Linked DNA regions of Homo sapiens: region 1 is linked to region 2. The links come from fine-mapping of genetic effects on gene expression. A gene starts in region 2. The other region holds a variant in brackets. All regions are shown on one strand. Distances are between the middles of the regions. Region 1 overlaps PRPF6 (pre-mRNA processing factor 6). Region 2 holds the start of C20orf204 (chromosome 20 open reading frame 204).

Region 1 (9,801 bases), 50 kb before region 2:
AAGAAACCGTTCCTAGGGATGCCCGCGCCCCTCGGCTACGTGCCGGGGCTGGGCCGGGGGTGAGGCCTGGGGCGGCGCGCGAGGGGCGGGGACCCGGCTACAGGAGCGCAGTGCTTTGGGGCGTGTTTGGGGGCGGGGGTCTATGGCCGCGCAGTCTGAAAGACGCTTGGTGGATCGGCTTAATCCCTGCAGGAAGCAACGGGCTTTGGGGTCAGGACATACCTGTGTGTGCACCCTGCTTGCCGCCTAGATGTGACACATTGACTCTCAGCCCAGTGTTTTGGTCTGTAAGATGGGTAATGCTGTATACGGTCTGCAGTGAGGAGTAGAGGAATCTGACGTGTAGTGGAAACACGCGACCACCTTCCTCAGGTCGGGCTGACACTCCCCCCCCCCGCCCGCCCGCCCGCCCCGCCTTAAGCGTGCCTGGGTCCTCTATGCCTGCAACACAGATGACCACCGTGCGTTGCTGGATAAGTGAGCAGTCGTTATTATCCTATTTGGCTATTCATTTGATGAGGAACACTACTGGGTTTTTCTTGGTGGTGGTATTATATTGGAATCTGTGGGGCACACACAAGCTCACTAAGGAGGGTTTGCTATTACCATAAATAAGTACGTAAAGAGGACCAGATTTAGAACCCAGTGCTTAATGGAGAGTAGCATTGGAGCCAAGTTTAGTAAGAGAGCTGGACTTAGGGCTGTAGAAACGGTGACGATAGAAGAGAAACTGACATTCTGCGTGTGGGAGTTCAAAAAAAGTGAGGCAAGGAGGAAGCCCAGGGAACAGGAGGGAGTCCAGTGTGAGTGGAATGTACAGCGAATAGAATAGAGCTCAGGAGGTTGGAGGGGCCTTGAGCGTCAGGCTAGAGCTCCTGGAGACGTTAGAAAGATCATGACCCTTCAGAATTATTATTATTATTATTATTTTTTGAGACAAAGTCTTGTTCTGTCGCCCAAGCTGGAGTGCAATGGTGCGATCTCAGCTCCCTGCAATCTCTGCCCCCCGGGTTCAAGCAGTTCTCTGCCTCAGCCTCCTGAGTAGCTGGGATTATAGGTGCCCGCTACCACGCCCGGCTAATTTTTGTATTTTTAGTAGAGACAGGGTTTCACCATGTTGGCCAGGGGGGTCTTGAACTCCTGACCTCATGATCCACCCGCCTCCGTCTCCCAAAGTGCTGGGATTACAGGCGTGAGCCACCACGCCCGGCCCAGAATTTTTTACTCAGAGCTGTGTTTTGGGAAGAATCATCTGGCAGAGCATGGGTTGAAGTAGAGGAAGGCTAAAGGCAGGGAGAGGTAACTTGGTTTCCAGCTGTGATGGGAGTCATAGTCTGGGAAGGAGGGATTTTGAAAGTGGATTCATTAGTACTTGGGGACAGACAGGATGGGGAAAGTGGGAGAGGGAGGCAAAAATTACATCATGGTCCCGTGGCATCTGGGACAGCTGTTATCAGCTGAAACCCCCCAGAGCAGCTGTAAGGTGGGCACGGAAGAGCTCAGTGTGGGCCAAGTTGGGTTTAAGGGCCTGGTTGGATGTGGAGGGGGAGATGATCGAAGCCTTAGGGTGGAGAGAGATTGCCTTGGTAACATCATCAGGGTAGGCTGAAACTTTCAGGTAAGCAGAGAAGATCAGAAGTGTTTGAGACTGCAGTTCATTGTCACCAGGATCTTTGGAGGTTTCCCAAAGGTGTTAGAAAAAGAGGTGTTAGTAAGTGATAACCAGGAGTGGAGAAGAGCACAGGAACAGAGTTATTCAGACACCCGGTGTCTTGGGGGTCTCCTGCAGCGCCACTGGCTTCACCACGCGGTCAGACATTGGGCCCGCCCGTGATGCAAATGACCCTGTGGATGATCGCCATGCACCCCCAGGCAAGAGAACCGTTGGGGACCAGATGAAGAAAAATCAGGCTGCTGACGATGACGACGAGGATCTAAATGACACCAATTACGATGAGGTGAGATGTGTCCGGCTTTCGTGGCTCCTCCAGCCAGTCTCTGGGAGCAGCTGACCTAACCAGTGTGTGTTGGTGTCTGTAATGAATGGCTTGGAGTGGCTCATGCATTTAAATTTTAGCTATTCATGGAACATCTTTACTGAGAGTGAGAGGGAGCAGGAAAAACACGGAGAAATGTGCACTTTTTGTCCCTCAGAAGAGATGTTCTTGCAGGTGTTAGGACCACTGCCTTGGCATTTTCTATTGCCCAGTCTTTTTTTTTTTTGAGACGGAATTTCGCTCTTGTCGGAAGAGATGTTCTTGCAGGTGTTAGGACCACTGCCTTGGCATTTCCTATTGGCCAGTCTTTTTTTTTTGAGATGGAATTTCGCTCTTGTCGGAAGAGATGTTCTTGCAGGTGTTAGGACCACTGCCTTGGCATTTCCTATTGGCCAGTCTTTTTTTTTTTTTTTTTTTGAGACGGACTTTCGCTCTTGTTGGCCAGGCTGGAGTGCAGTGGTGTGATCTCAGCTCACTGTGACCTCTGCCTCCCCATTTCAAGCGATTCTCCTGCCTCAGTCTCCAAGTAACTGGGATTACAGGCATGCGCCACCATGCCTGGCTAATTTTGTATTTTTAGTAGAGACAGGGTTTCTCCATGTTGGTCAGGCTGGTCTCGAACTCCTGACTTCAGGTTGTCCGCACGCTTCGGCTTCCCAAAGTGTTGGGATTACAGGCGTGAGCCACTGCGCCTGGCTGCCAGTCTTTAATGATAAAAACTTAAAGTGGAATTGGTGATAGTATTTGCTTTTTTTAGCTTTAGTGATTGCCCTCTAAACAGACATCTAAAGAAAAACTTCAGCTGACTGAATACCGATTAACTGTCTTCTAACAGATGACATTTTTCCTCTGAGGAAAATTTTTAAAAATAATTTTAGTTTTGAGGCCAGGTGCGGTAGCTCACACCTATAATCCTGGCACTTTTGGAGGCCGAGGTGGGCGGATCATGAGGCCAGGATATCGAGACCATCCTGTTTAACATGGTGAAACCCCGTCTCTACTAAAACTACACAAAAATTAGCCGGGCATGGTGGCATGTGCCTGTAGTCCCAGCTACTCGGGAGGCTGAGGCAGAAGAATGCTGTGAACCCGGGAGGCGGAGGTTGCGGTGAGCCAAGATTGCGCCACTGCACTCCAGCCTTGGCGAGAGTGCGAGACTCTGTCTCAGAAAAAAAAAAAAAATTAGTTTTGAAATAATTTTAAATTTGCAGGAATTTGCAAAAATAGTGCCCCCCCAAAAAAAAGTTTCTGCATGTCTTTCACCAAGCTTCTCCCGATGTTACATGACCTTAGTGCAGTTATTGAAACGAAGGAGTTAACATTGACACAGTACTATTAACTAATTTGTCAGTCGTATTTGCATTTCATGTTTTTCCATGAATGTCCGCTTTCTGGCTTAGGCTTAGTCCAGGATCCCCCATTGCATTTCGTCATGTCTCCTTGGTCCCTTCCAATTGGGGGTCTCCTCTGTCTTCCATGCCCTTGACGCTTGAAGAGTAGTCACCAGTTATATGGTAGACTGTCCCTTGATTTGGCTTCGTTGGCTGAAGAAAATAATTTAGCAAGTATTTCACAAGTAGAGATCTCCGTTTCGCTGGTGGGGATGGTGTTGAAGGAAAAGCTGACCTCTACACGTGTTGTTTGCTTCTCAGTTTAATGGCTATGCTGGGAGCCTCTTCTCAAGTGGACCCTACGAGAAAGATGATGAGGAAGCAGATGCTATCTATGCAGCCCTGGATAAAAGGATGGATGAAAGAAGAAAAGAAAGACGGTAAAAGAAATTGTTGCCTTTCACAATATTTATCCAAGTTTAAAAAAAAGTTTTGTGGCCAGGCGCAGTGGCTCACGTGTGTAATCCTAGCACTTTGAGAGGCTGAGGTAGGACGATAGCTAGAGCCCAGGGGTTTGAGACCAGTGTGGGCAACGTAGGGAGACTTAATCTCTACAAATAATTTAAAAATTAGCCAGATGGTACACACCTGTAGTCCCAGCTACTTGGGTGGCTGAGGTGGAAGGACCGTTTAAGCCCAGGAGGTAGAAACTGCAGTGAGCCATGATCATTCCAGCCTGGTTGGCATAGTGAGACCCTGTCTCAAAAAAAAAAAAAAGTTTTGTTTTGAATTGTTTTATATTTGGAGAAAAGTTGCAATAGAGTATGTGTGTCTGCTTAGCTTTTAGGCCACCTGAGGGTCTTGGTCTGTCGTAGCCATGCCTGGATAAGCACTGGGCTGTTACAGAACAGCCTTAGGGCCTGGGGGCTGCAGTGGAGAGCTTAAGAACTCTTAAGTTTTTCCAGAAATCAGCAGAATTTTGTGGATTACTTTTACGATACATCAGGGTTACCATCTTTGAAATGAAAAGGGCCTACTGACTTGATTATTATATGTTGAGTAATTTGCAAATGAATTAAAGATGTTAAATGACACATACAAGCTACCAAGATTGAACCATGAAGAAATCCCAAACCTGAACAGACCAATAAAAGGTAATGAGATCAAAGCTGTAACAGAAAGTGTCCTAGCAGAGAACATCTCAGGATCTGATTGCTTCATTGCTGAATTTTACCAAATATTTGAAGAAGAACTAATACCAATTCTACTCAGACTATTCTGAAAAATAGAGGAGGGAATACTTCCAAACTTATTCTACAGAACCAGTATTACCCTGATACCAAAACCAGACAAAGACACACTGAAAAAAGAAAATGTTAGGTCAGTATCCCTGATGAACACTGATGCAGAAATCAGCAGAATACTAGCAAACCATATTCAACAACACATTAGAAAGATGGTTCATCGGCTGGGCGCAGTGGATCACGCCTGTAATTCTAGCACTTTGGGAGGCCGAGGTGGGCGGATGATGGGTCATCTGAGGTCAGGAGTTCAAGACCAGTCTGGCCAACCTAGTGAAACCCAGTCTCTACTAAAAATACAAAAATTAGCCGGGCATGGTGGGTGGTGTACGCCTATAATCCCAGCTACTTGGGAGGCTGAGGCAAGAGAATCGCTTGAACTCGGGAGGTGGAGGTTGCAGTGAGCCGAGGTCACAACACTGCACTCTAGCCTGGGAGACAAGAGCAAGACTCCATCTCAAAAAAAAAAAAAAAAAAAGATCGTTCATCATGACCAAGTGGCATTTTGCCCAGGGGATACAAGTGCAAGGGTGGTTCAACATATGCAAATTAATCAGTGTTATACATCATATCAACAGAATGAAGGACAAAAACCATATGATCTTTTTTTTTTTTTTTTTGAGACGGAGTCTCGCTCTGTTGCCCAGGCTGGAGTGCAGTGGCGCAATCTCAGCTCACTGCAACCTCCACCTCCTGGGTTCAAGTGATTCTC[C/G]TGCCTCAGCCTCCTGAGTAGCTGGGACTACAGTTGCCCGCCACCACGCCTGGCTAATTTTTTGTATTTTTAGTAGAGACGGGATTTCACTGTGTTAGCCAGGATGGTCTTGATCTCCTGACCTCATGATCCACCTGCCTCGGCCTCCCAAAGTGCTGGGATTACAGGCGTGAGCCACTGCGCCCGGCCTAATCATTTTAATTGATTCTGAAAATGCATTTGATAAGATTCAACATTCCTTGATGATAAAAACTCTCAAAAAACTGCATATAGAAGAAACATACCTCAGGCTGGGTGTGGTGGCTCACGTCTGTAATCCCAGCACTTTGGGAGGCTGAGGCGGGAGGACTGCTTGATCTCAGGAGTTTGAGACCAGCCTAGGCAAGAGGGTAATACCTTTTCTTTACAAAAAAATACAAAAATTAGCCAGGCTTCGTGGCACACACCTGTAGTCCTAGCTACTCAGGAGGCTGAGATGGGAGAATTACTTGAGCCCAGGAGGCAGAGGTTGCAGTGAGCTGAGATCATACCACCACACTTCAGCCTGGGCCACAGAGCGAGACCCTGTCTCAAAAAAAAAAAAAAAAAAAAGGGGGGGGGAGCATAACACAATAAAAGCTATATACAGCTGGATGGGGTGGTTCACGCCTGTAATCACAGCCCTTTGGGAGGCCCAGGCAGGCAGATCATTTGAGGTCAGGAGTTTGAGACCATCCTGACCAACATGGTAAAACCCTGTCTCTACTAAAAATCCAAAGATTAGTTGGGTGTGGTGGCTCAGGCCTATAATTTCAGCTACTCAGGAGGTGGAGGTTACAGTGAGCTGAGATTGTGCCACTGCACTCCAGCCTGGGCAACACAATGAGACTGTGTCGCAAAGAAAAAAAAAAGCCACATATGGTAGGCCCACAGCTCGTATCATACTGAATGGGGAAAAACTGGAACGCAACAAGGATGCCCACTTTCACCACTGTGATTCAACATTGTACTGGAAGTCCTAGCTAGAGCAGTCGGACCAGAGAAATAAATAAAAGGGCATCCAGATTGGAAAAGAAGAAGTTAAATTATCCTTGTTTGCAGATGATATGATCTTATATTTAGAAAACCCTAAAGACTCTACCAAAACACTATTGGAACTGACAAATTGATTAAAGTTGCAGGCTATGCCCCCAGGTGTGGTGGCTCACACCTGTAATCCCAGCACTTTGGGAGGCTGAGGGTGGGTGGATCACCTGAGGTCAGGAGTTTGAGACCAGCCTGGCCAACAAAGAGAAACCCTGTCACTATTAAGAATACAAAAATGGCCGGGCACGGTGGCTCACGCCTGTAATCCCAGCACTTTGGGAGGCCGAGGCAGGTGGATGACTGGAGGTCAGGAGTTCGAGACCAGCCTGACCAACGTGGTGAAACCCTGTCTCTACTAAAAAAATTACAAAAGTTGCCAGGCGCTGGGACTCACGCCTGTAATCCCAGCACCTTGGGAGAGTGAGGTGGGTGGATCACTTGAGGTCAGGAGTTTGAGACCAGGCTGACCAACATAGTGAAACCCTGTCTCTACTAAAAATACAAAAATTAGCTGGGTGTAGTGGCACACGTCTGTAATCCCAGCTACTCAGGAGGCTGAGGCAAGAGAATTGCTTGAACCTAGGAGGCAAATGTTGTAGTGAGCTGAGATTGCACCACTGCACTCCAGCCTGAGTGACGGGGCAAGACTCTGTCTCAAAAAAAAAAAAAACCAAAAAACAAAAATTAGCCGGGTGTGGGGGTGCACGCCTGTAGTCCCAGCTAGTTGGGAGGCTGAGGCAGGAGAATCGCTTGAACCCAGGAGGTCGAGGTTGCAGTGAGCTGAGATTGCACCACTGCACTCCAGCCTGGGTAACAGAGTGAGACTCCATCTTAAAATAAAAGAAAATATCCATACTACCCAAAGTAATTTACAGATTCAATGCAATCCGTATCAAAATACTGGGGACATTATTAACAGATAGTGAAAAAATAGCCAGGTGCAGTGGCTCATGCCTGTAATCCCAACACTTTGGGAGGCTGAGGCAGGTGGATCACTTGAGGTCAGCAGTTCGAGACCAGCCTGGCTAAACCCCATCTCTACTAAAAATACAAAAATTAGTTGGGCATGGTGACAGGTGCCTGTAATCCCAGCTACTTGGGAGGCTGAGGCAGGAGAATCACTTGAACCTGGAAGGCAGAGGTTGCAGTCAGCTGAGATCGTGCCATTGCACTCCGGCCTGGGCAACAGAGTGAGACTCCGTCTCAAAAAAAAAAAAAGAAAAAGAAAAAATAATTCTAAAATGTACATGGAGCCAAAAAAGACCCAGAATAGGCAAAGCTATCCTGAGCAAAAGGAACAAAACTGGGGGAACACTTGACTTCAAATTATACTACAGAGCTGTAGTAACAAAAACAGCATAGTACTGGCAGAAAAACAGACACATAGACCAATGGAACAGAATGGACCCAGAAACAAATAGGTACCTCTACAGTGAACTCATTCTTGACAAATGTACCAGGAATATTTATTGGGGAAAAGACAATCTCTTCAATAAACGGTGCTGGGAAAACTGGATATCTATATACAGAAGAATGAAACTAGACCCCTCTCTGTCACCACATACAAAAATCAAATTAAAAGACTTTAAGACCTCAAGCTGAAACTACTAGAAGAAAACATTGGAGAAACTCTACAGGACATTGGACTAGGCAAAGATTTCTTGAGTAATACCCCACAAGCACAGGCAACGAACGGAAGCCAGGTGTGGTGGCTCGCTCCCGTGAGCCAAGAGTGCGCTACTGCACTCCAGCCTGGGCCACAGAGACTGTCTCAAAAAGGAAAAAAATAAAAAGTTCTCATTATAGAATATTAGGAAAATAAGAGTAAGTATGGGTAAAAGCATAACATTTATTCATAAGTCTAGAAAGTAACAGTTAACATTTTGGCTCATTTCCTCTTTCTGTTGCTTTTTTTTATCTTGGCTCACTGCAACCTCTGCCTCCCGGGTTCAAGCAATTCTCCTGCCTCAGCCTCCCAAGTAGCTGGGATTACAGGTGCCTGCCACCACGCCTGGCTAGTTTTTGTATTTTAGTAGAGACGGGGTTTCACCATGTTGGCCAGGATGGTCTCAAACTCCTGGCCTTGTGCTCCATCCACCTCGGCCTCCCAAAGTGCTGGGATTACAGACGTGAGCCACTGCGCCCAGCTCTGTTGCTTTTTATACATGTAATCATAACTTCCTGTGATGTATGTAGAATGTTTTATTTTTTGAAGATAATTTTAGAATAGTAAAATATAGTTCTTCTGGAATTTTATTTATTTTTTATTTTTTTGAGTCTCCCAGGCTCAAGTGATTCTTCTGCCTCAGCCTCCCAAGTAGCCGGGATTATAGGCACGCGCCACCACACCTGGCTAATTTTTGTGTTTTTAGTAGAGACAGGGTTTTACCATGTTGGCCAGGCCGGTCTTGAACTCCTGACCCCAAGTGATCCACCCGCCTCAGCCTCCCAAAGTGTTGGAATTACAGGTATGAGCCACCGTGCCCAGTCTTGCCACACACTTTAAACAACCAGATCTTACGTGATGTAAACTTGCTGCCTCGAGGACAGCACCAGGCCATCAGGGGTCTGCCCTCAAGACTCAAGTGGCCTCCCACCAGGCCCCACCTCAAACATTGGGAATTATAATTCAGCATGAGATTTCATGGGGACACAGATGTAAACCATATCCTTTGGCCTCCCAGAGTGCTGGGATTACAGACATAAGTCAATGTGCCTGGCCTGGACATCTTTTTAGAAGCTCGTTATTAAATCATTGTGCATAAATTTTATACCTATAGTAATTAAACGTGAATGGCATTGCATTTCACTTTTTTTTTTTTTTGGATACAGGATCTTACTCTGTCACCCAGGGTGGAGCGCGGTGGCTTGATTATAGCTCCCTGTAACCTTCAATTCCTGGCTCAAGCGATTCTCCTGCTTCAGCCTCCCAGGTAGCTGGGATTACAAGCACGTGCTACCACACCCAGCTAATTTTTCTTTTTTCTTTTTTTTTTTTTGAGATGGAGTCTCACTCTATTGCCCAGGCTGGAGTGCAATGGCGCAACCTCGGCTTACTGCAACCTCCGCCTCCAGGGTTCAAGTGATTCTCCTGCCTCAGCCTCCCAAGTGGCTGGGATTACAGGCATGCACCGCCACGCCCGGCTGATTTTTGTAGAGATGGGTATTTTTAGTAGAGACGGGGTTTCACCAATGTTAGCCAGGCTGGTCTTGAACTCCTGCCCTTGTGATCTGCCTGCCTTGGCCTCCCAAGGTGCTGGGATTACAGGCTTGAGCCACCACGCCAGGCTCACACCCAGCTAATTTTTGTCTATGTTGCCCAGGCTGGTCTTGAACTCCTGGCCTCAAGTGATCCACCTGCCTCCCCTAACCTTGGCCTCCCAAAGTGCTAGGAT
Region 2 (11,215 bases):
CCGCCATGGGTCATGCAGAGACAACAGCCTTCCTAGTGCTGGCTTTTGATTCTCTCCATCCCTTCTCCCCAGCACTGGGTGGCAGTGGTGCTTGGTCTCCAGAGGTCTGGGTGCCGCCCCCACAGGCTTGCCTGTAGGGGCACCTCCTCTCCCCTGCCCGCAGGCCCCCGACAGATGAGAGAGGCTCCCCACAGGGAGGCTTGTGTCTGCCTGGTGCTACCTTGGTCCTGCCCTGTGCGTTCACCTCCCAGAGTGACTTCTGGGTGACACTCTGATAGTGCAGCCATAAAACCTTATAAAAGGCTTTGCTAAAGTAAATAAGTCACTCCTTGCTATTCCCAAGCCAGTGTTTTGTGTGTCTGCTATCTGGGTTTGTGCTCTTTAAATCACAGTTTATCTAACACCGGGCAATTAAGAATACCACAAGGCTTAAAAAACAATCAGGTTATCAGAGTGTGAAATTATTCCGTTTGGCAACTGAGACGAACCCGAACAGCTGCCCGGAGTGGAGGCTCCTCGTGTTGTCTCTTGACTACGGTGCCTCTGGCTCCAGGGGGAGGTGACCCTGAGGAGAGGGTGGCAGCAACGCAGAGTCCCGGGCCTGCCAGCATGCTCAGCAGCCAGCGCCCGCCATCCCTTCTCCAGCAGCGGGTGGGGGTGCCATGCACACCCTTACCTGGCCTCTCATAGCATGGACCTCTTCGGGCCCGGTTTTTCAGGTGTGCATGTGTCTGGCAGGCACGGCGGTGTGAATCCAGTGGCCTGAGGGCTGTGGGCTGCAGGCCCAGGCCCTTGTGCTGCCTGGAGCCCATCTTCTCAGTGTTCACTGGGGTTGCTGCTGGAGGCCGGGTGGGGCAGGATGATCCAGCAGGTGTCTCAGTGAGGAGCTGAAACTGTATAACTTTCCCTCATCAAAGTTGCAGTTTAATTTTGTGTCAGGTTTAGTTTCATCTCCTTGTATCTGACCCTAATTTTACGGAGTTGGAAGATCTTTCCCTGCGTGTGAATTTTTTAAGAAACAGTTTGGGACAGGTGCGGTGGCTCATGCCTATAATCCCAGCACTGGGAGGCTGAGGCAGGTGGATCATGAGGTCAGGAGTTTGAGACCACCCTGACCAACACAGTGAAACCCCATCTCTACTAAAAATACAAAAATTAGCCGGGTGTGGTGGCGCATGCCTGTAATCCCAGCTACTCAGGAGGCTGAGGCAGGAGAATCGCTTGAACCTGGGAGGCAGAGCTTGCAGTGAGTCGAGATCGCGCCACTGCACTCCAGCCTGGGCGACAGAGCGAGACTCCTTCTCAAAAAAAAAAAAAAAAAAACAACAAAAAAAAACCAATTTGGTTAGACCCGTGAAGGGCAGCTTCAAGTTAATGATCTGGGGTAATTATTTCTGGATCAGCCGAGGCCCTGATCCTCAGGCCTTCTTGAGGGGAGCACCAGGGCTGCGGGTCAGGGATGAAGCTGATGGCCCTGAAGCCGTTCCCCTGCCCCAGAATACCGTCCTGCAGCCACTCACTCTGGGTTCACGTCCTTCTGCTGGAACAGGCTGTTTTGGAGTCAGCGGAAGATCACCAAGGCCAGGGAGTGGTTCCACCGCACTGTGAAGATTGACTCGGACCTGGGGGATGCCTGGGCCTTCTTCTACAAGTTTGAGCTGCAGCATGGCACTGAGGTGAGGCCCCTCGACAGACCGCCGCTCAGTGCCTTCTGGGACTGTGGCGGGGAGTTCCGCCAGCCCTGGGGGCTCTAGGAGGTGGCCACGGCCAGCGTGACTCTGCCCGGGGTCGGGAGGATGGACCGGGTGTGTGGGGCACAGAATCCTCGACACCTCCCCACAAGGCAGTCTCTGCCTCCACATCCGTTTTCTGGTTATAGCCTCACAGCTCCACACCCTGGAATTGAGGCACCCTGTCCGTTAGGGTGGCCTGTCTGCTGGAGTATTTTAACGAGTTATTTGCTGGCTGGAGCCTGGGCTCACTTTAGGAATGGGAATGGAGTTGGCCTTTTTCTTGGGCCTGAGCCTGAGTGTGGCTTTCTAGGACAGCCTGGGCAGCAGCCCCTCTGCTCCCACCCGCCCCGCTAGAGCCAAGCGTTGTCTGAGCTGTGCTGGAGGCAGTCAGGCTGTCCTGGTCCTCCCTGGAAAGTGTTGCCAGCCCACGTGAACCCTAACTCCTTGTTTGGAGAAGGCAGACGTGAGCACTTGTGTGAGGCACAGACATGGGGAGCCTGGCTCAGTTCCTCATCTGTGGGCTGAGGCTGGTGGGGTCCATGCTCCTCAGGAGGTGGGGCTCCTTTGAGGAACACACCTGAAAGAGCCTTGCCTTCCGGTGCAGGGCCTGTGCCCTCTGGCCCGCCAGTTGGGGTTGGTGCTGCCAGGGCCAGGTCTGCAGGGGCCAGGCGAGAAGCAGGCGAGGTCCGGGGAGTAGCGTGGGAGGACCCCTGCCTGACGTGCCCTGTGGTCCCCCCAGGAGCAGCAGGAGGAGGTGAGGAAGCGCTGTGAGAGTGCAGAGCCTCGGCATGGGGAGCTGTGGTGCGCCGTGTCCAAGGACATCGCCAACTGGCAGAAGAAGATCGGGGACATCCTTAGGCTGGTGGCCGGCCGCATCAAGAACACCTTCTGATTGAGCGGTTGCCATGGCCGGTCTCCGTGGGGCAGGGTTGGGCCGCATGTGGAAGGGCTCTGAGCTGTGTCCTCCTTCATTAAAAGTTTTTATGTCTCGTGTCAGAACAGGCAGCCTGCTGGTTTTCTCTGGGGCCCTTCTCTGGCTCCTGCTTCTGCTGCCCCAGTCTGGCCTGTCCTGGCCTGTCCCATGCCGTCCTGGGGTGGCTGTGATCGCCCTTGCTTGGACAGAAGCCTCTTGCAGACAGCCGGTGTCTCACAGAGGAGGCACTGTGGAGGTGCCCGGGTTCCCCAAGACTGTGGAGAAGGTGGTAGGGGTGCAGATGTTCTGGCCAAAAGCCCTGTGAGGACAGCTGGAGACAGTGGGGACCAAGCTGCATGCAGGACGCAGGTGCTCGCAGGAGCCTGGCAGCCGCCTGCAAGGGTCTTGGTCAGGGGACAGCTGGGGCCTCCCTGGGGTCTGAGTGCAAACAGGAGAACCCAGCTCTGCGCAGGGCCTCTCCACACAGCCTCCCGGGCCCCTCAGGCATGTGCTGAGTGACAGTGTCACCAGTAAGAGGCGTTCTTTCTTTTGGAGGTGAGTTCATTTTTTTATTTTTGAGACAGTCTCGCTCTGTCGCCCAGGCTGGAGTGCAGTGGCACGATCTCGGCTCACTGCAACCTCTGCCTCCTGGGTTCAAGCAATTCTCCTGTCTCAGCCTCCCGAGTAGCTGGGACTACAGGCGCCCGCTGCCAAACTCCTGACCTCAGGTGATCCATCTGCCTCAGCTTCCCAAAGTGCTGGGATTACAGGCGTGAGCCACCGCACCCGGCCGTGAGTTTATCTTTGCTAATTTATCATTCGCAGTTTAACCCTAAAGCCCTTGTAATGGTTCTCATCTCCAGGTTGAACAGTGATGGTTCTCATCTCTAGGTTGAACGTTGATCACCCGAGAGACTTGGCTTCTCTTCAGCCTTAGCTGTGTAAGGATAAAGGACGTCCTCAGGCCTGGGATCATGTGTGTGCATTCAGTTGGGAGCCAGCTGGTTCTTGTGTAGGCCGGGGCTAGAGACATCTGGCTGGAGGTCATGGCTGGCCCAGAGGGTGTGGGTGGACAGTCGTTGAGGCCAGCGGGCGGGGAGGAGGGCGCTGTCATGTGGGCTGAGGAGGCTGCTGGAGAGCAGCTGTCCCTGGATGTTCCTTGTGAGAGGGGAGCCCTGGAGGGTCCCGGCCTGTCTTGTGGTACCGATGGCAGGGCCTGTGGTGGTGGTCAGTCACTGACCCACAGCTCTGCCCACCTGCACATGGGGGCCTGTGCTAGGCCTTGTGGTCTGCCTGCCCTGCTCCTGACGAGTGAGAATGGCTGGGGTGGGAGATCCCTGCCTGCACGTGGGGCGGTCCTGGTAGACCAGAATGTGGGTGTGGGTCCCCCTTCCCTGTGGTTCTGGGGACCTTGAGGACATGGTCAATCCCGGGCAAGGGACCTGCCACCCCTGTATGGGGTCAGGAACTGCTGGTTGGTCTCTGCTGGGCAGGCAACCTGGGGTCCAGCTCAAATCGTTGGAATGTGGAAGTCCTTCCTCTCGCCCCGTCCTGAGGAGCAGCTGCAGGAGCTTCATGAGTGTTTTCACTGGAACTTGTGGAGGAGTTTCCTTTGATCCCTCATGGAGAGACGGAAGCATGAGGGAGCCCTCAACATTTATTCTGAAGATGAAGAGAGTCCTGCAGCTTTTTGGAGTTTGTGAAGTCAGCCCGGCCCTGTACAGATGTGGAAACCGAGGCCCAGGAAGTTTGTGAGCCAGCCCGGCCCTGTACAGGTGTGGAAACCGAGGCCCAGGAAGTTTGTGAGCCAGCCCGGCCCTGTACAGATGTGGAAACCGAGGCCCAGGAAGTTTGTGAGCCAGCCTGGCCCTGTACAGATGTGGAAACCGAGGCGTAGGAAGGAAGCCCTTCTCTGACCTCAGAGCTGAAATGGCCAGTGCTGGGTGGGCATTGAGGGGTCACACAGAAAAGAATGTTTCAGGCCATGTTCAGGGGATACTTCCTGCAGGGCCCTTGGAAAGTTCCGGAGCGCTTACATTGTCCATGTGTGAGTGTCTCCTCTTTCTTGCCTGTGTGGGGTTTTCTCAAATGCTTTGAGTTGGCCAAACCACAGTTGTGCGCCACTTAACAGTGCGGATACATTCTGAGAAAAACCTCGTTAGGTGATGTCGTCTTGCAAACATTAAAGAGTGCATTTACACAAGGCTGGCAGGCACGGCCTCCTGCACCCCCAGGCTGTGTGCCCGGGTGCCAGAGCCTGGGGCTCCTGGGCTGCAGACCTGCACAGCCTGTCACAGCATTTAATCACATCCAAACACGGAAAAGGCAAAAACGTAAAGATGCAGTGTTACAATCCTAGGGGACTCCTGTCACCTGTGTGGTCTGTTCTTGACTATTGTGAGTCACTGACTTTTCCCCCTGGGAAACTACCTTAACTTGTCTTCAACTGAAATTTTTTCAGCCTGCAAAGATGAGTTGTGCCTCAGAGGTTGCTCGTGTTCTGAGGTGCCTCTTCACCACTGCCTGTCAGGCTGCTAACCAGAGTGCCCCAGACCACAGCAGAAGCGACAGCAGCCAAGGATCGGGGGAGCCCACCCTGCTCCTGGGTATCTTTACGGCAGGCAGCAGAGTAACAGCCTCAGACTTACCTCTTCAGCCAGAGACCCCTCAGCCCAGGAGGAGTGAGGCCGGGCCAGCAGCGGGGGCCCGGGAAGCCCCATGTCTTGGGACCTGCTGGGGCAGGGCCCCCTGGATGTCAGGCTGCAGGTCCGGCAGCTGGGGAGGGGATGAGGGCCTCCCACCAGCTCTGCCCATCAGCCAGATCCCTGGGAGAGGCAGCACTTGCTGGCCACAGAGTCGGCCCCAGTCTCACCTGGCTCCCCTCCCCCACCAGCTGGGCCCTGCACTGCCCCAGCCCACGCGGCGCCTCACCCCTCCTTGACAGAACAGTATCTCTGGGACGGACAAGTTAATCCAAGACCCACAGTAGCCCTGGATCCCCTGGGAGAGGTGGCTGCCCAGCTCCAGGGCCAGGTTAATTGAAGTGATAGGGAGTGGAGAGAGGGAGGGGGCAGGGCTGGGATTGCGTGGCCTTTCCTTCCCTCTCCTGCTCCCTCCCTCAGCTTGGAGGAGCCAACTTCAAAAGCCTCCGCCTGGCCTGCCCCTCTGCAGTCCTCCAGGCAGCCTGTCCAGGGAAGCGGTTGGCTGGTGTTGGACCTGGTGCGGCAGTGCACACCCTGCCCAAGGACCCCAGGATCATGTGCGTGGCCTGCTGGCGGGAGTGAGGGAGGGCAAGACCCTGAAAGGCCCATGGTGAGCAGCTGTGGGCCTCCTCTAGGGAGGGGGCTTACTTGGGTGGAGGGGCTGGGGGTACACACAGCTCAGGAGACACTGCTTGTTCCCCTGAGCCCCACCAGGAAATCTCCGGTTGGCTCTGGTCACTGCGTCCCTGTGGGTGGCACTGGGTGCATGTGCCCTGGCTTCTGGCAGTTGGGGGAGGGGGGCTCCTGGGTGCCGGGCAACCCTGTTCTAAGCTGGGCTGAGGCTTGAGCCTGGAAGTGGTACTAACAGGCCAGTTGGGACTCCCAGGGCAGCCAGTCTGCCCCACCTGGGTGGGACACAGCAGGTGCTGGACATCCTTGCAGCTCCAGCTGGCCTGCTCAGGAGTCAGGCTCTGGTTCTCGCTATGACCTCTGACCCAGAGCAGGCAGAGGGAATGACGTGGCAATTCTGAGCCCACCAAGTTGGCTGTGGCGTGTGTGGTTGGGGGGGTCAGGTTTCAGGAAGGGGCCACAGCAAGCCATCTGCTCTTCCAGCCATTGCTGCTTTGTGCTCTGAGCAGGAGCTGCCACCGCCCACCAGGCCCCCAGCTCTATGCAAGGGTTGGGGTGCTGCTTGTTCAGGCTCCCCTGACAGGGCTAGGAAGCCGAGTCGAGTCCTCTTATCTTGGTTGGGTTCGCATGATTAATTTCCAGCCCTAGATCTGCTGTCTGACTCCATCCTGGGGGCCCAGGGGAAGGGTTGGGGCTGGCCCCTTTTGGGTGGCTGGGAACCTGGGGGCCGTCAGCTGTCTCCTTGATGTTTGGGCTTTATCCCTGCGGGCGCAGGCCCTCCATTTTGGGTCGGGGGAGGCCTGTGGCACAGGCTGCCCGGAGGGATGGCGTGGGGCGGCTGGTACAGGCAGAGGGGCCTTTTGCGACTGTTGGTTGGGGCTGGATGTGGTGGCTCCTTCCTCCTCTATAGCTTCTGGGTGTCCCCCTAGCTTTCCCCTTCCAATAGGGTGTGGCTTGGAGCTCTGAGCCCCTGCCCCAGTTGGGTTGGGGGTACAAGGAGTCCCCAGTTCCCACGTCTCTGTGAGCTAACCCAGAGGGCGCCAGTATGGGAGGTGTGGAGTTGAATGGGCATGGCCATGAGTGAGACAGGCTGTACTGGGACAACTTCCTACTGTACCCCCAAGAGCCTGCAGACCAGCCCCACTAGAGCTGTACGGGGCTGGTGGGGGGCCCTGCTCTGTGCGGTCCTGAGGGTGCTCCACCCCTTGCTGGCCCCACTCCCACGTGGACCACAGAGCCAGGCTCTCCTGACTCTGGGCCTGCCCCCTCTATCTCCTGATGGGTTCTTCAGGACTCAGTGACATCGCCTCCCAGCCGACATCACTCACCCCTTTCACATCTTTGCAGGGAGCATAGAACTGTCTGGTTTGCAGACCTATCTCTTGTGTCTCCTGATTTATCCCGCCAGGCCTGTGCCTACAGCCTTTCTTGATTGGTGACACGTCCATTTCATTCGCTCAGAGATCCCGTGGGGTGGGGCAGGGGGTGGGGCTTCTACGGAAACAAAGTGCAGGTGGGCTGGCTGCTCCCTGTGCTGGGAACACCCCCCAGGCCTAACCCCAACCTGCTGTCTCCTCCAGGTACCCCCTAAGCCTGCACTCTGGGCGCTCCTGCTGGCGCTGCTGGGGACCGCGCCAAGCCGCGCCTATTCCCCGGCCTGCAGCGTCCCCGACGTGCTCCGCCACTATCGCGCCATCATCTTCGAGGATCTGCAGGCCGCCGTGAAGTGGGGCGGGGCGGGGGCCGAAAAGACCAGGCCAGGCTCCAGACACTTTCATTTCATACAGAAAAACCTGACTAGACCCGGGAGCTCGGGACGGCGGGGACGGCCTCGGGCCTCCTGTGGCGCCCAGAAGGTATGGAGGAGGCGCCCCTACCCAAGCTCGCCGGCCTGCTCCTCTCTCAGTTTCCCCCCACCCCCACCCCGCCTTCCTCCCTTCCCTCCCCAGGAGCACAGTATCCTCCTGTCCATCTCGTCCCTGGGTCGGACCCTGCGCGGGGCGGTGGCCGGGGGCCGCCGCGGGGCCCTGGAGAGAGCTGCTTGGACCGTGGCTGTGCGCACCGAGGCGGTGATGCGGCGCCACTGCAGGACGCTGCGCCAGGTGTGCGTCCCTGAGTGCACCCAGAGCCAGACCTCCCTTAACCCCCACAGGGCCGCCGCGCGTCCCGGGGCTCCACGGCCCTAGGCTGAAGTCGGGCTGGGTCGCGTCTCCCTTCCCGGGCCGGGCCGGGCGCGGGGGCCGTGCGCATTCGCTGACCGCCCTGTCCCCGACAGCGGAGCCGGCGGCCCAAGATGCGCCCTGCCCGGCGTCGCGGCGGCCGAAGGCAGCTCCTGCTGCGCGCCCTGGACGCCGTCGCCACCTGCTGGGAGAAGCTCTTCGCGCTGCGCGCCCCGGCCTCCAGGGACTCCTAGCGCGGCCCGTCCTGGCCCTGCGCGGGGAGGAGAACCAGCGGGGCCGCGGCAGAGCCTGGAGACGCGCCTCGTTCTGTAGACTTGTTGGTGACCTCGGCCCCTCGCTCGACGCAGCCCGCGCTCCCCGGAGGGCCCAGGACTTGGAGAAGGGAGCGCGCCTGGCCGCCGCTGGGTCACGGAGGAGGCCCGCCCTCCACGCGCCGAAGGCCTCAATAAACGGAGCTGGCGCTGCGGGTCCGGCACTCCCTTCGCCTGCCTCTCTGTGGGCCTAGGACCGCCCCGGGATCTGCGCCTCGGTGGCGGGGGGCGGTGGAGGGGGAATGCGGAGACCCGCACTTCCTGTGGCACCTGGACGGGGCGGAGCCGCCGCTCCCAGCCTCGGGCAGCAGAGGGCGGACGCGGGACGCTGGGCGCGCTCCGGCTCTGTCAGCGGCTCCCGGCTGGGCGGAGGGCAGAGCGGGGGACTCCTGGGGCCCCTAAAACGTCACGTATCCGTCCTGCTCCACTTTGGACCGGGGCCGGGGGTGGAAATTGAGGGGAGGGGAAGGCTGGACTTGGTGAATTCGGAGCAAAACAACCGGATAAAGGAAACGGGCCCGAAGGGAAGCGGGAGCTGCGGGCCTTGGCTGTGAGCTTGGCCAGGCTATTTCCTGCTGCCTCCGGAGGGGTGACCACGGCCTGGGCTCAGAGACTGCCCAGCCCCCTCTGCAGGACTGGCCAGGCTGGGGCCCGCTTTCTGGCCCCTGGAACCCTCCATTTGCTGGGGGACTGTCCCCTGGTTCCCCCATCTGATGCGCAGGTCTGGGAGTCTGTCACCCCCCTCCCCCAATCTCGGCCCATGGAGGAGCAGGGGAGGTAAAGTACCTGACACCTGTTACCCTCCCCTTCCCGGAAAGGCCGCGAGCAGGCTGTGCCTCTGGCATTCTGTGGGATCAGGGGCAGCAGCAGAAGAAAGAAGTAACCTCCCAAGCTGACCCTGACCCAGCCCCACACTCTGTGTTAATGTATTTAGTCTGTGCAACGGGAGCTACTGTCTCTGTTTTATAGATGGGGAAACTGAAGCACGAGGAGGCTGAGACTTGCCCCAAATCACAGCCAGCAATGTAAGAGCTGGCCTCAGACCCAGGCCCAGGGCATGGGATCTGCCACATGTCCCCTGCCTGGAGGCTGGGGGCCAAGCTTCCTGGACTTCAGAGCCTTGGATTCCCCTGCAGAGTTAGCACTTCTGACAGAGTCCCTGGCCATGCTCTGAGCACAAACACCTAGCAAGCATTCCCAGCCCTAGTTCTGCATTGCCTGCTCCGTGGGGGCCAGTGGGGGCAAGTGTGGGAGGGATGAGGGGGAGATGCAGGGTGCAGGAGCCCCAGCTGGAGCCAAAGCACTTGAGGGGGGTGCTTGGACTTATCCCGAGGCAGCGGAAGGTCTTTGGTGAAAGAGGGATGTTAGAGTTGGAATCTAGAAAGGTTCCCGTGACTTGTGTGGAGGGTTGGTGAGGACAAAGGGGTGGAGAGAGGTCCAGGCTGCCCAGGGTCCTGGCTGGAGTACCTGGGTGGGTCTGTGGGGAGCCTGAACATGGGAAGCACTAAAGGGGGAGTGGGTCGGTTTGAGGGCCCTGAGGGAGCTGGGGAACTGTGGACGTGGCTGGGCTCAGCTGGGCGTGCTGGTGTATGGAGCATAAGGTATGGACAGCCGAGCATGGCTGGGAGGCAGCTGAGTTGGGGCCTGGAGAGAGTCCAGGGTTCTGGGCTGGGCTCAGGGACAGGATGGGGACAGGCCCTCCATGAAGGCTCCCACTGTCACATTGCCCCAGGGGCAGCTGACTTTTGCACTTGGACCTGCCCCAACCCCTGGGCCATGGGGAGGGCACTCCTCTCCTGTCCATGCATGACCTCCTGGGCGGCCCCTTGGCTCCTGCCCACCCGCAATGCTCCCGTTCTGCTGTTGAGAGCAGTCAGAGGCTGGGGATGTGGGTGGGCAACAGAAACAGCTCCCTCTACCCTGACTGAGAAAGGTTCAAACAAACCACAGCCTCTTGGGGGCAGGAGGAGGAACAGAGGCCTCAGGATTTTGGGGACACATGTCGGTGCCTAGTCCTGGACCACGACCACGTGGGTGGGTGAGAAGTCCTGCATCCTGGCCCATGGCTCCTCTCCCTCATGCAGAATGGGAGCAAGGTGGGCTTTGGGCTTCTGGGACAAAGTTCACTTGTCCAGGGTGGGGACAGCCCAACCAGACTAGGTCTAGGGGCATGTGTGGAGCTACACGAAGCGGCCCAGAGCTACCGAGAGCCACAGAGACTAGGAGAGAAGCCGCAGGTGCCTGCTCAGACCTGAGAGGCTCAGGTCCTCTTTGGGCTCAGCACTGGGACCGTAGCTCTTCTGTAGCTCCATGAGGATAGAGGCATGTCTCCCTCAGCATGATACACCAGCACCTGGCCCAGGCCAGCACACGAGCTGCTCAACAAATGTTTGTTAGCTGGAACTGACCAGAACCAACCCAGAGATGGAAAGAGACTCACTGGGCCCACGGCTGATAGGGACAGAGCCATTGGCCACGGAACCACTGAGGGCAGATCCCATGGACTGGCCCTGTATGTCTCTAGACCGACTGGTGGTGCCTTCCCTGCAGAGGCCCAGGGCAGGTGGCCTGAGCCTGGTTCTTCGTAAAATACTGTTTCTGGGTTGGGGCTGCACACAGTACTGTCCCGTCCCACCCTCATGCCTTTTCAGGGCTTGGCTGCTCCAGGGAGGTGGGGGCTGTGCCAGGGTAACAGATGGAGCCTGCAGGGCGCTGGCTGGGGTTGTGCAACTTCCCACAGCCCAGG

The links. PIP is the estimated chance that this variant, and not a neighbour inherited with it, causes the effect.
Region 1: its variant is fine-mapped to the expression of C20orf204 in blood mononuclear cells (TOPMed, PIP 0.93).

Annotation. Positions count from the first base shown.
Region 1 is chr20:63,981,258-63,991,058 of GRCh38, forward strand. It overlaps PRPF6 (pre-mRNA processing factor 6), which reads left to right. Exons shown (of 21, transcript NM_012469.4): 1 at 1-59; 2 at 1,790-1,958; 3 at 3,650-3,768. Among named protein-coding and RNA genes, the nearest start is that of PRPF6, 5.0 kb to the left of the region's middle. RefSeq lists a silencer at 60-169. The variant C/G (reference allele first, on the strand shown) is at 5,342.
Region 2 is chr20:64,030,369-64,041,583 of GRCh38, forward strand. C20orf204 (chromosome 20 open reading frame 204) reads left to right here and starts at 5,814. Exons shown (of 4, transcript NM_001387010.1): 1 at 5,814-5,958; 2 at 7,559-7,834; 3 at 7,928-8,080; 4 at 8,254-8,633. The coding sequence starts at 5,956. The coding sequence ends at 8,391. PRPF6 (pre-mRNA processing factor 6) reads left to right here. Exons shown (of 21, transcript NM_012469.4): 20 at 1,550-1,676; 21 at 2,473-2,732. The coding sequence ends at 2,625. RefSeq lists enhancers at 4,977-5,206, 6,094-6,687, 6,157-6,256, 6,688-7,281 and silencers at 7,927-7,996, 8,097-8,416, 8,607-8,886.